4 linked regions of the Homo sapiens genome follow. The protein of the gene in region 2 purifies or fractionates together with the protein of the main gene of each other region. This does not show direct contact. Each region holds a gene or a part of one and is shown on either strand. Other genes may lie near its edges.

Region 1 (3,500 bases), on a different chromosome or scaffold from region 2:
TTGTCACTAGCAATTTATGAGAATGTTCCTCTCACCTCACCATCATCAGCACTGAGGTTTATCATTTTTTAAAATCTTGGCTGATACATAAAATATGGCATCTCATTTTGGTTTTAGTTTACATGTCTTTTGACTGATGAGACTGAACTCTTAACACGTTCATTAAGCTCCTATATGCCCTCTTTTGATAAATTACCGGTTAGCAGAACCCTCCTACCCACCTACAGTAGATACAGAGCATAACACAGAATCCGAACTTTGTGTTGTAAGCCACTAGAGATGTGGGGTTATCTGTTACAGCAGCATAACCACAGTATCCTATCTTCACATCTTTGCCCCATTTTTCCATTAGGACAATAATAGACACTGTTCATTGTTACCTCAAAGCCTTCACTTTAGTAACAAGTCCCAATTTATAAAGCAGGGCACATTTCTGGACTCTAGATAGGATTCAGTAGACAGGTGAAGCATGAAACAGGTGCTGGTCAATGAGACAGAGCGGGCCTGTGTGGCATTTCCCAAAGGTACTCTCCTTTTTTTTTTTTTTTTGAGACGGAGTCTCGCTCTACATGTAGCCCAGGCTGGAGTGCAGTGGCGCGATCTCGGCTCACTGCAACCTCGGCTCACTGCAACCTCTGCCTCCCGGGTCCTGGTTCAAGCGATTCTCCTGCCTCAGCCTCCTAAGTAGCTGGGATTACGGAGTGAGCCACCACGGCTGGCTAGTTCTTGTATTTTTACTAGAGACGGACGGGGTTTCACCATGTTGGCCAGGCTGGTCTTGAACGCCTGACCTCGTGATCTGCCTGCCTTGGCCCCCCAAAGTGCTGGGAGTACAGGCCCAAAGGTACTCTTAAAAGGGAAGAACACCCTCACCTCCCCCTCTGCTGTTTCTGCTGCCGGAAACATGGCTGTGATGCTGTTTGCTGTGGCAACATCTGGAACAAGGTTACGGCCACCCTGGGAGGGGTAGAGTGCTTAAACTGCAAAGAGCCTGGCTGTTGGTGTCTTCATGGAAGCATCACCTGCCTGGGACTGCTTATCTCCAGACTTTGTTCACACTGGAGACTATGCAGCCACCTTGCTGAAGTCACTGTGCTTTCTGGTGAATACAGCCATGCTGACTCCTGAGGGGCAAGGTTGGCAGGGGAGCTATGATGTTACAGATTTCTACCAAGTCATGATATTAACAGTTTGTCAGCAGATCTAAGACAACTCTTGTTCTCAGTTTCACTTTTTAAAATTGCTTTCAGTGTTGCTTATGATGTTTCCTGACCTACAAGTTTTTAAACTTTTCAGTACTCCTCTGTTTTCCTTTCATTTCTGTTTTCTTTATTCTCAGTAAATCTTCATTCAACTTTTTTTTTTTTGTAAAAAAGGATACAGTTTCTGTAAGTGGATCCAAGTTACTGAAAGAAACAAGAGAAATGTCTCTAGTAAGCAGCGTTTACAATAACCAGTTGAAATAAGCCTGCTAAAGCTAACAGTAATATGCCACAAGGAAAACAAAACATGTTTCATCAACAACTTTAAGGCCAACTTTAGGGCTGAGGCAGATGATTTAATCTACCTAATAGCCATAATAAGCTGTCACAGCCACTATTAAGGTGTTTACATATTTTTTCACTTAACTGCTACTTGCTTCTTTAAAATTCAAGTTAATAAATCTACATCTTGTGTTTTCTAAGTGGCAATAAATTGCTAATGGAACTGGAGACCAACTAGGGATGTATCTCGCAGAGACAGAAGGTCAAACTCGCCCGCTGCAGCATCCAACCCCATGGATCCTCCCCGCCTGTGTCTGGGTCTTCCCTGACAATTGCTCCTTTATTCCACCCTCTAAATGTGGTCACTCCCACCACTCGGTTTTTGCTCCCCACTCCTATTCTACACTCCCACCTCCCTGTCCCCACCATCCCCATTCCTATGTGTTCAATCACGTGTTCTTAGTGGATGCCTCCCAACCTGGCTCCGATGCTGTGGGCAGCTCACCAGCACATCCCAGCACACCATTCCCAAATCTGCATTCTGAAAACCCATCTCCATCCCCTCACTTCCCTAGTCAATTAATGGAGCCACTATTTTGTCAGGTTCAAAACCAGCTACTTTTCAACTGTTCTCTTCTGATTTCTAGTCAAATTCTCCTTTGAGACCCATAACAATGCTAGTCATATCATATTTCTGTAGTCCAGCAGTTCTTAAACTGTTTGGTTTCAGAACTCCTTTACGCTAAAAAGTTACTGAAGACTCCAAAGAACTTTTGTTTATACGCGTAATATCTACTGAGATTTAAAAATTTTAAATATTCACTCAAAAATAATAAATCAATTACACGTTAACACAAATACCTTTACCAAAAAAATCACTATACTTCCGAAAACAAAACAAAACAAAATCCAGTGACAACAATGGCATTGTTTTAACAATTCTGCAACGTCCTGCTTAAAAGACAACGGGATTCTCAAGCATTTGTTATGCTTGCTGCTGAAAGATCACACCTTGGGAAGCTCCACTGTCTACTTGTGAGGGAATGACAGTGGAAAAGATGAAAAACCTTCTTAATACATCATGAAGATAGCTCTAACCTCACACAACACCTGAAACAATCTTGGGGACCCCAAACCCTGGCCCACTCCTTGAGAATCACTGCTCTAATACAGTGCAGGGAGTCACTCCACCACACCTTTCGACGACTGAACTGCTTTATCTCCTCTTGTCTGCCCACCCGCACCCTCACCTCCAGCCCCGCCATCTCAGGGGCTTCCTATTTCATCACTAAGAAGAGAAAACAGGAAGAAGTCTTTGCCAAAGTCCCCCCCCCCCCCCGCCCACCGAACCCACGCACACAGGCATCTGCACCCATATGCTACTTGCTCTCCTGTCAATAGGCACGGAGTGCGGGCGAGAGACCCCCTCAGTACTCGGGACCCTCCTCCTGCAATTCTCTTTCCCTCCTGCATCTGCATCTTCAATTTCTCTTTCCTGGAAGAAATGTACAAATATGATGTGCACTGAGCCATCAGCTCCTCTTGAACAGCTTCCCACTCCTGGGACAGCCTGAAATGCTGTCTTCACTCAGCTTCTGAGACCATGGGGTTCTCCTCTCACCTCACTGAGCCACACGGTCTCCTTTACTTGAACACTTGATGCCCTAAGGCGCCATCTTACAAACTCTTAGCCTTTTTTTCTACACTTGTGCTGACCCCCAAATTTCCATCTTTAGCTCAGACCTAATCTTGAGACGCCCATGCCCAGATGCCTTCCTGGCCCCTCCACCTGGGTTTCTTGGTGCACTTGGCAGAGAAGTTCAGGTCTTATGATGGCCTCTCCAGGCCCTGCCCTTCTAACTCTCTGCTGTTATCCCCTTACCCTCCCATGCTCACTCTGTACCAGCCATGCGGCCTGCCTCCTATTTGAAACAGGGGTGTCTTCACTTACTGTTCCCTCTATCTGGAAGCTCCCCTGGCCCCCAGTGTTCATGTAACTCATTCCTAACTTCCCCA
Region 2 (3,500 bases):
CAGTGAAAGAATCCAGTGCTAAAACAGCATTTATGCTGTCTGAGATATAGTAAAATCTCACAAGACAAATTTAAAGTAATATTTCTGCCACACACCTGCTTTGTTAGCTGTAACAGCCTCCAGATTTTATATAAATTAGTTTAAAAACATGGGTGGGTGGGGAGGAATAGGATAAGGTATCTTTTTTAACCACTCAATTTTAGCAGCTTTAATTTTTTAAGAAACTGAACCTCTATCCTGTAATGTTAGATATTTTATATATACTTTTTCAGCAGGATAAAAAACGTAAAACACTATTTGAAGGCAAGAACATTTACTCCTCTCATTCTGTGTAAGTTAGAGCAATGCAGCAGGTGCGTGACAAAAATATTATATACTAGATATGGTCCAAAGTCATTCCATTTGCTTGTTTAGTGATGTTCAAATTTCATTGGCCAGTTCTTCAGCTTCTGCAGAACTATCTCCATTAACTGTGATCTTCATATCCTCTTCATATCCAGGAGGCATGAAAGCCAAAGCATAAGGGAAAAGCTTATGACAATTTGCTCTATAAATTTCAGCAGCTTCTTTACAGTCTCCTAGGCTACCATCATACAAGGCTTCCAATACCTCCATACATGTCTAAGGAAAGAAAAAAAGTCATGTTGTAACTGGTCAAAAAAAGGTTCTTACTGGGAATTTATTAGACATTTCAACAGCAAGAGATTTCTAAAATAAGAAATAAATACACATATTTAGCTATTTACTCCTGCATATGCATTCTATTAGAATGTTCTTCAAGGCCTAATTTAACCATTTCTCCAGAATTGCAGGATTTATACAAAAGGCTAAACAGGGATGACTGCAGAAACAGGAATGGGACTATGGTGAGGCAAGCAAGGTATATGGAGTGCTACATTTAAAAAGCCACTCACTCTCAGCAAGCGTATGACCTTAGGCAGCAATGTTACCTCAGCCTAGCCTGGCCCTGGGTATAAACATCTAGATTTACAATGCCAATACCAATTACTGCACATATGCCTTCTAATATTTTTGAAAGCTTAGAGCCAGCCAGCAAACTCAAACACTGTATTCAACATTGTGTTCAAATTAAAGAGCAACTTAAGGCACATCCAATAACTAAGCAGAAAAGAGTGTCTCAAACATGAAGTGATTATTTGCAAGAAAAATTAGTTCATGAAAATGAGTAATTCTTTCAACCAAACCCCTAAGTAAGTCTGCTTCTTATCTTTTTTGTTGATTCATGTTGATTTGCATTTCTCATGTTTGCTTTCTTAATATTTTCACTTAGAAAAGCTACTTAGTTTCCACATGCAAAAATCCCTACAAACTTTGCCAGGTTACAAAGCAACTTAAATCCAGGTTACAAAGGACCTAGATTAGAACTTTAAATCCAGGTTCTAATCTAAATGGTAAAACAAACAAGTCTAATTTTTCTTTCTTAAAGATACTGCCTTCATTTGCTATTAAATGAATATATTTATTAATAACTGTCTTTCAGCATATACATGTTTATCTGGCAAATTATAACATGAGGTAGCTATCCCTTTGTTTCTAGTTTAAACTACAGTATTTTACAATACACCCATATTAATTTTTATTTAACTTAATCTCATATTGTATTACAAGTTACAAAATAAGTATTTTTATTTAGCCCCTAGTAAATACATCTTTCTTTATTTTGAGATAGGGTCTTGCCCTGTTGTCCATACTGGAGTACAGCGTCACAATCACAGCCCACTGCAGCTCCAACCTTTCAGGCTCAAGTGTTCCTCATATCTCAGTCCCCCAAGTAGCTGGGAATACAGTGCCACCACATCTGACTGATTTTTTTTTTTAAGAGATGGGGTCTCACTATGTTGCCCTGGCTTGTCTCGAACTCATGAGCTGCAGTGATCTGCCCACTTTGGCCTGCCAAAGTGCTGGGAATATAGGCCATGAACCAAAACGCCTAGCCAAAATACATTTTAAACATGTTAGAATCTCCACTGAGACCACTGCTTGCTCAGAAATGCAGAGATATGAAATGAAATCCAAAAATGACGATGGAATGTATATGATTTTATTAAAACATATTTCTTAAAAAGTTATTCCAAGCTACAGATGTGAAACTAGTTACTGAATGCCAAGCAGCCTAAATAAATTTTAAGATAAGTTGTTTCTGACCCAGATTCATAATGATTTAAAAAACAGTGTGTATAAATACCCAATTATTTCTCTTGGTGAAAAAAGTAGTTAAGTATTCTTACAGAGAGATTATGAAAAACTCTTTACCTGGAGGTTTCTGTTAGTGAGAGATTCATCAAGTGTTGTTGCCAACTCTATAGCTCGCTTCTGACTAGAAGGATCTAAGTAATATACCATTTTGGCAGCTAAATGAGAGGGAAATAGGAAATTTATTTCAAGGTAAAACCAACATCTTATCCTCTACTTATTTAAATATAAAAGGCAAACAAGATATATATGCAGAGGGTGTGGCACTTTATTAGAAGAATGGGAACAGCTACTTGAGATACTGTTATTCAAAAAATAATAATGCTAAGGGGATTAGCTTAACCATCCAAAGAAAGAGAACAATAGAGGTATACCACATATATCTACCCAATAAAATAGAATGTATATGCAACACATGCACAGTAAAGGAGACTATGAAGAAACACAAGCATTCTAATAATACTTGTATTTTTGTGGTAGGACCATGATAGTCTTCTTTCTGAAATAAGCAGAATAATGTGGAGGTTGGGGGACTATCCTATCTCAACAGTGTGAGCCAAAATGCTGAATTCAGGATTCCACAAAGGTATACAAAGCTGCTGGGCTTAAGCCAAGTATTTGAAAAGTACTACCCACATGGTCCCATAAAGGTCAGATTTTGGCTCATTGGCACAGACCCTTGACTTAGATTTCTCACAAACTGTGAAGATAATTTCAGGTGTTTAGCACTGTCAACTCTGATACCTACATAAGAATGAGAAATGGAAGACGATGGTCCTATCTGAGTGAATTTTAAGAGCCCAATGATGAAAAAAGAAATAAAAGAAAGCTCTACCTTCATTTTATGATATACATTTAAGTTTAGTTACACCTGCTTCTTTGTAATGCCAATGCTGAACCAGAAGAGACCACTGACTTTGATTTGTAGTGATTATTTTGCCGTAAGAAATTAAAAAATGTATAGGAAGCGCATATATATATAATATATATTATATATATATATATATTATATATATATATGTTTGGTTTTGTTTTGATTTGAAACAGGGTATCATTATGTTGCCCAGACTGGCCTCAAATTCCTGGGCTCAAGTGATCCTTCTGCCTCAGCATCCTGAGTAGCTGGGACTACCGGTATGTGCCACTGTGCCCAGCTTAGGAAGCTTATTTAAGCTGCCTGTTTTCATACGATCACAATGTAACATATACACACTGCCTCTTCCATTCTAAAAACATGTACCTTATATTATTGTTGATTCATTAAAATTACTGAAGTTGTTTTAGAA
Region 3 (3,500 bases), on a different chromosome or scaffold from region 2:
ATTAAAATATTTCTGGCTTGCCTTTATTTAACCAAAAAGTTTAGTTAATAAAGTACTGCATTTCTCAAACATTAGAACTTCAATAAGTTATGAAGATTTTTTTTTGTAATTGTTATTCACAATGTATGTCCTAGCAATTTTTTTACTTACAGACTCTCAAATCACTTTACATATATTAGGAAAATGTACATTATTTGAGAGGCAAAAGTGGCAAATGTAAATGGCAGTTCTTCAAAAGTAAAGCAGAGCACCAAGACACCGAATAGTCATTACCTTAAAGTACACATAAAATCAGCTTAAATGAACCTAAAGCCCCTTTAGTGTGAGTGCACCTGTTTGTGGATAGCTTTTATTACACTGGCCCAAAATGAATAAGACTGTAAGACTTTCTTTTATGGTTTATTTTTTAATATTAAAAAAATTAACATCCTCTGCAGACTTTTCCTTTGCAGCAGCAAAGTACATCAACTGTCTTTTTCATCTTTATTTCCAGCCAACTCAGACAGTAATGCCAGGACAAGTCATGCGGGTTACAACAGGTGCTCCAATACCCTGCGGTGCTGATGCAGTAGTACAAGTGGAAGATACCGAACTTATCAGGGAATCAGATGATGTACGTCATCACCAAGTCTTACTGTGCTGTTGTTCCTATGGCAGTATTATGTCACAACCATTTTCTGCAGTGTTTGTGAGATTAACCCAGTTTTTTGGGTTGTTTAGTTTTGTTTTGTTTTTGCTTATGGTGGGATCTTATATTGTAGTATATGAGTCTCCAGTAAATAAGAAATTTCCTTAATCTTGAAAATCTGTTGTTACAGGAGGGGTTTCTATGATCATTGCTGTTATAGCAGAATTTGAATCATATTTGACCCAAGCAGTTTCACATGCAAACAACGAAAGAAAGTACCTCAAGAAAGAAATGCAGAGATATTAATGGTTGACATACCTTCCAGAGCAGAGATATTAATGGTTGACATACCTTCCAGCTGAGAAATTTGCCATTGAGACTAGCTTCTGATAAAATGTCAAGGAGTTCATGAAATCAGAATTTACTAGAGAAGAATTTAACAAAGAGCACTTGGGCAAGTTCTTGAATATTACACTAAGCCAAGCATTTGAACCAAATGACCCTTTCACCTCTGGTTTTCTGTAAGTCTGGAAAAAGCTGTGCCACCAAATGACAGCCTGGAAATATTAAGTGTATGTCAGTTCTCCCTCCATTGCCTCAAGTAAAAGATGCTGGAATCTTTTTGGACCTAAGCAAGCCTTTATCTCACTGAAAATAGTGGCAGGTTATTGAAACCAGAGTATAAGCCAGTAATAAAAGTAGAATAGATTCAACTGAGGTTTTAATAATCAGCTCTCTTACTTGTTTTATGAAGAAAGTAAAGATATATTTTAAAGCTGAGGTGAAAAATAAACATATATTCTCCCAAGCCGAGTAGATAGTAAAATTGGCCATGCCAAGAGACAGACACTTTCCCTGATCTGGAGATTTTCTTTTTAATCACCTTTCCATATGTAAGGCTTATAAAATTCAACCCTTGGCAAACAGATCACATTGCCTGCTGTTAAAACTGCCTAAGCAGATTTATTGGCATCAGGGAAGCCAGCAAAGCACTGAATTCCAGAACACATACATCCACAGACTCTGCCAGATGACAAGACACAGTTCCAATGTCACAATATTATTCACAGCCCATAAATGTAAAATTGATTACTGCAATTAATGGACAGAAATCTACTACCAGGCAAACTATAAGTCCTTTACTGAAATTTCTGCAAGTATTTGGTAACCTTGGCATGGTATTGAACCCATGATTCATGGGAAAAGAAGGAAGATATTACCTCCACACACGTTCACTTTATTAGGGTAGCCACCTACATATGTATATAAAAATATATAAACAAATTCTATATAATGTATTAGTTCAAATATTAAATCTTATAAACAAGATTTAATATTTGAATTGGTACATTTTTTAAAAGCATAAAAATTGGAGAAAAAAATTTTTTATTTATTGGCACCAAACCTTCTAATTTTTCAGGAACCTGTGTTAGAAATTCAGTGTTTTCAAAGGGTGTAGCAAATAGTTTTCTTTTTGTCTATATTTGTATATATCCTGGGCCTATCTGATGGTAAAAGTATCGGAGTAACTAAATTCTACTGCTCAGAAATTCTGTTTGAAATTACATGACCGGCTGTTATTATAGGGCACTGAAGAACTTGAAGTGCGAATTCTGGTGCAAGCTCGGCCAGGCCAAGATATCAGGTAACTTCAAAACACATAGAATATATAGCCTACTTTTGTTTCTACATGATCATTTACTCAGGAAACCCTGGCTACTATAAATCTGCAGCCATGTCAGTTAGCCATTAATTTTCAGGGCTTTAACAAAAAGCAAAATGAATGTTATGAATTCTGTATCACATATCTGCCCTGCCTACTTTTTAATGAAGATGGTAAAGGCGAGTTAGTCAAAAGCAAGATGAGAAAGAGGTAAAGTCATGAGCCTACATATTCTACAGTTAATTCTACTTCTAGATAATCCAGAATTACCCAATCCCATCCCTAAATAATCTGGAATTTGGTATCAACTCAGATAATACCAGAATTGGGTATTTACACAATTAACTAATAGCATATGCTCTAGTGACTACCAATAATAATGGAATAATCTGTTCCTTGTTATATACAAAGATGAGGCTATTTGCTATGATAAATAGTGCATATACCTTAAATTATTTTTCTTAAAATGGAATATGTTTACCCTGATTCCATTAATACTAATTTGCTGAACATCCCTTTGTAACGAAGCTACACTTCTCCCATCCCTATGGCAGCACACCAAGGTTAATGTACCTCAGTAGCCACAGATCAGGACCAACCTAAGTGGTCCATATGGAAATTACCTCTATGACTGTAGCCTCATTAGCATTATTCTCCTTGACAAAGCTAGCCAGCTGTGGACCTCTTATCATTAATGCCGCTAGATATTGCCATACAAATTCTTGCCTTATCAAAGAAAGTTTACAATTGGTATTTTTACTATAATGTAACATAAAACAATTTGTAAAGTAATTTTATTCACAGGTACTCATGAAAAAAAATTTCAAATATGAAGTAACATGTTTTTCTTTAGCAGTAATACATTCAAATCCTATTTCTGTTTTCTGTTGTGTGATTTAACTTTTAAAATTAAAAAAGCATAGGATTTTTAGAATCCCTTCAATTCATTGTTTTCCTACTACTTTATTTCTAGACTTTTTTGTCTTCTTGAATGTCCTTTTTTGACACTAAAGTTTCCCTCTGAGTTGAGAAAATGTTGTTCTCTAATCACACTGCTTATGGTTCTGCTTTGACTTTCAGACCCATCGGCCATGACATTAAAAGAGGGGAATGTGTTTTGGCCAAAGGAACCCACATGGGCCCCTCAGAGATTGGTCTTCTGGCAACTGTAGGTGTCACAGAGGTTGAAGTTAATAAGTTTCCAGTGGT
Region 4 (3,500 bases), on a different chromosome or scaffold from region 2:
TCATTTAAGTAACCGGAATGATGACACGGTCCCTAAAAGGCCAAGCAGTCTAAGTGTAGTAAGTATCGTTGCTGTTATCTTCTTCTTAGTTATACTAAGTTCTTCACAATTAGCAACAAAAACTGACTTGAGGCAGGAAAAGCAGCTGTCCTTTTTTTCAGAGAATGACTGAACAGAATCTTGCTTGTGACTATCAGTGTGACTGAGGCCGGAACAGCGTCACTGTCCTTGCTTGAGCTCCATGCCCGACAATTCTGATTCATCAGATTTGGGAGAAGAGTCCAAGCATCTGCATTTTTAAAAGTTTCTCATGTGATTTTACTATAGCCCCAGGTGAGAACCACCGCATTACAGAAACTGAGAGCTGGAAACATGTCCAGCATTCAGTTTATCCACTGAGGCCAGTACAAGAAATGCAGCAGGAAAACAGACTTAGGACTACCAACGTTCCATCGGCGCAGAGCCCTCTCTAATCCAATCATGTTTAAGCCCTGGATTTAATCAGGACTTATACAATATGTCTAAAGAAAGAGAGTCAAATCAGCCCATGTAATATGCAACCAGCCTTGTGGTCTCACCAGATGGTGGCTTCTGCTCAGTCCGGGGGTCATTTATCTAAAGCTGTGTTATGATGCTCTGTCTGCTAGTCAGGGAGTCCTCCTTAAAATTTTAGAAAGAAAGTCATTAAACTAAGCACCTATATCTTTGTCATGTCAAATCGAAATGCATAGAAAATGAAAGAGGAGAGACTAACCTAAAAGACTGAGGTTACTATCTCAACTGCAAAACAGAGAAGCTACCTCCAAGCAGATGCCCAACCAATGTCAGATAACCTGCAGTCTGGGAAATCTGGAGTCTCTAAGTTTTGTTCTTTAGATGAACAGGTCTTTACCTTATATCTTCTTCTATCTTTGCCTGAGCTTCAAGGTCAAAGGGATCAGCAGAAAACAGACGAATCCTTTCTTGCTCTCTCCGGGCTCGGTCCTGCTGCTGCTCCACCAGGACTCTAGAAAATTTCTCTACAAAAATAAGGGAGAAAAATCTTAAATATCACTATATTTTCAACGTTTATCAGTACTTTTCCACACCAAACAATTTATCAAACTACATCTGTAAGAGATGCAGAGAGGATGCCTAAAGCTTATTTAAAATGAGCAATTACATTTACTTTCTGTTCTCTGAGTCAAGGCTATTTCATCATTTAAATTCAGTGTAAAGAAAGTATTTGTGGCTGGGTGTGGTAGCTCATGCCTATAATCTCGACACTTTGGGAGGCTGAGGTGGGAGGACCGTTTGAGCCTAGGAGTTCGAGACCAGCCTGGGCAACATAGCAAGACCTTGTCTCTACAAAAAATATAAAAATTAGTTGGGCGTGGTGGTGCATGCCTGTAGTCCCAGCTACTGTTGGATGGGGGTTCAAGGGTGGGGGGATGGCCTGAGCCCAGGAGGTCGAGGATGCAGTGAGCTGTGATCGCACCACACACTCCAGCCTGGGTGACATGGTGAGACCCTGTTTTTTTTTTTTTAAAAAAAAAAAAAAAAAAAGTATTTGCAAAAATTTTTTATAAGAAGTTATCTATCATATTGTTTCTACTCAGAGGTAACAACTTTCCAATTTAAAATGGTGGGGAGTGACCATGTGGCAGATCAATGTCTCCACTCCTCCATTCCTCATTGTTCTCATTATCCTACTACCTAGAAACAAAATACAGCATTATATAATCTCCTTTTCCTCTTCTAGTTTCATTTCTTTTATAACATGCCCTGCCTTAAGCCAGATACATTAAGTATAAACTATTTTTAGTCTACCTATATTTTGTGTGTGTTCTGATGAATTAATAGGCAGGAAAATTAGTAGAGAAAACACTGCTTGCTATAAGATGTATGTTACAACAAGAACCTATTTTGCAATTTCTTTTTTTTTGAGATGGAGTTTCGCTCTTGTTGCCCAGGCTGGGGAGCAATGGCGCAATCTTGGCTCACTACAACCTCCACCTCCCAGGTTCAAGTGATTCTCCTGCCTCAGCCTCCCAAGTAGCTGGGATTACAGGTACCTGCCACCACGTCCAGCTAATTTTTGTATTATTAGTAGAGACTGGGTTTCACCATGTTGGCCAGGCTGGTCTTGAACTCCTGACCTCAGGTGATCCACCGTGCCCGGCCTATTTTGCAATTTCTTAAATGGTGGTACATTTAAGTGTGCAAACTTAAATGCCCCATCATCACCATCTTTGGTGATTAGATATGCTGATATAAGAGATTAAAAGATATTATGACAATGGTTATCTGAACTACTAATGCACACAATACAGATGGATCTAAAAAGCATTAAGTTGAGTGAAAAGCCTAACACGAGCTGGGAGTGGTGGCTCACGCCTGTAATCTCAGTACTTTGGGAAGCCGAGACGGGTGGATCACGAGGTCAGGAGTTTGAGACCAGCCTGGCCAACATGGTGAAACCCAATCTCTACTAATAATACAAAAATTAGCCGGGTGTGGTGGTGCACGCCTGTAGTCCCAGCTACTTGGGACACTGAGGCGGGAGAATCGCTTGAACCCAGGAGGCGAAGGTTGCAGTGAGCAGAGATCGCGCCACTGCACTCCAGCCTGGGAGACAGAGTGAAACTCCGTCTCAAGAAAAAAAAAAACAAAGCCTAACACGAAAGAGCAGACACTCTATTATTCCATATACATGAAGTTTAAAAATACGGGAAACTAAACCATAAGATTATCAAAACAGTAGTAACCTATAAGGAGAGGAGATTGACTAGAAAGCAACACAGTGGAACTTTCTGGAGTGAGAGAAATGTCCTGTGTCTTGATTGGGGTTACAGGAGTTTGTCAAAACTCAAGGAATTGTATATTTAAAATCTGAGTACTTCGCTTAAGGTAAAGATTGCCAATTTAAAGACAGTCAATTGAGGAATGAGTCATTAAGTGTCTGTTATGTTTTTAGACTTAACCCAATTTAACTCATAAACCCAAGAGTAAAATGAGAGTAATTTACAGAGAAAACTCGATTCATAAAGATGGCTACAAGTTAGCTGGGTGCAACTGCTCATGCCTGTAATCCCAGCACTTTGGGAGGCCAAGGCAGGCAGACTGCTTGAGCCCAAGAATTCGAAAGCAGCCTGGACAACATGGCAAAACTCCATCTCTACAAAAAATACAAAAAATAACTTGGAGTGGACTGAGGTTATGGTGATTCCATTTTGCCATACAGGGCACTGAACCTTCCTGGCATCAGCTGGCATCAGCTGGCTTGTTGATGATCTCTTTAATTGAAGATCTAACTAAGGTTAAAATATCGGTACTGGCTGGGCATGGTGGCTCACACCTGTAATCCCAGCACTTTGGGAGGCCGAGGCAGGCGGATCACGAGGTCAGGAGATCGAGACCATCCTGGCTAACACGGTGAAACCCCGTCTCTAATAAAAATACAAAAAATTAGCCAGGTGTGGCAGCATGCGCCTGTAGTCCCAGCTACTTGGGAGGCTGAG

The links. The genes of interacting proteins can lie anywhere in the genome.
Region 1: the proteins of NAA15 (region 2) and NAA20 fractionate together in Homo sapiens (co-fractionation; one large-scale study listed by BioGRID). This does not show direct contact.
Region 3: the proteins of NAA15 (region 2) and GPHN purify together in Homo sapiens (affinity purification with mass spectrometry; one large-scale study listed by BioGRID and IntAct). This does not show direct contact.
Region 4: the proteins of NAA15 (region 2) and DDI2 fractionate together in Homo sapiens (co-fractionation; one large-scale study listed by BioGRID). This does not show direct contact.

Annotation. Positions count from the first base shown.
Region 1 is NC_000020.11:20,020,362-20,023,861, reverse strand, and holds part of NAA20 (N-alpha-acetyltransferase 20), read right to left. Parts: intron 1,407-3,500; coding exon 1,382-1,406; intron 1-1,381. UniProt on the Homo sapiens protein: Catalytic subunit of the NatB complex which catalyzes acetylation of the N-terminal methionine residues of peptides beginning with Met-Asp, Met-Glu, Met-Asn and Met-Gln. Proteins with cell cycle functions are overrepresented in the pool of NatB substrates.
Region 2 is NC_000004.12:139,385,005-139,388,504, reverse strand, and holds part of NAA15 (N-alpha-acetyltransferase 15, NatA auxiliary subunit), read right to left. Parts: intron 2,373-3,500; coding exon 2,275-2,372; intron 622-2,274; coding exon 421-621; 3' UTR 1-420. UniProt on the Homo sapiens protein: Auxillary subunit of N-terminal acetyltransferase complexes which display alpha (N-terminal) acetyltransferase (NAT) activity. The NAT activity may be important for vascular, hematopoietic and neuronal growth and development.
Region 3 is NC_000014.9:67,109,647-67,113,146, forward strand, and holds part of GPHN (gephyrin), read left to right. Parts: intron 1-493; coding exon 494-613; intron 614-2,214; coding exon 2,215-2,273; intron 2,274-3,371; coding exon 3,372-3,500. UniProt on the Homo sapiens protein: Microtubule-associated protein involved in membrane protein-cytoskeleton interactions. It is thought to anchor the inhibitory glycine receptor (GLYR) to subsynaptic microtubules.
Region 4 is NC_000001.11:15,630,958-15,634,457, reverse strand, and holds part of DDI2 (protein DDI1 homolog 2), read right to left. Parts: intron 1,020-3,500; coding exon 893-1,019; intron 1-892. UniProt on the Homo sapiens protein: Aspartic protease that mediates the cleavage of NFE2L1/NRF1 at 'Leu-104', thereby promoting release of NFE2L1/NRF1 from the endoplasmic reticulum membrane.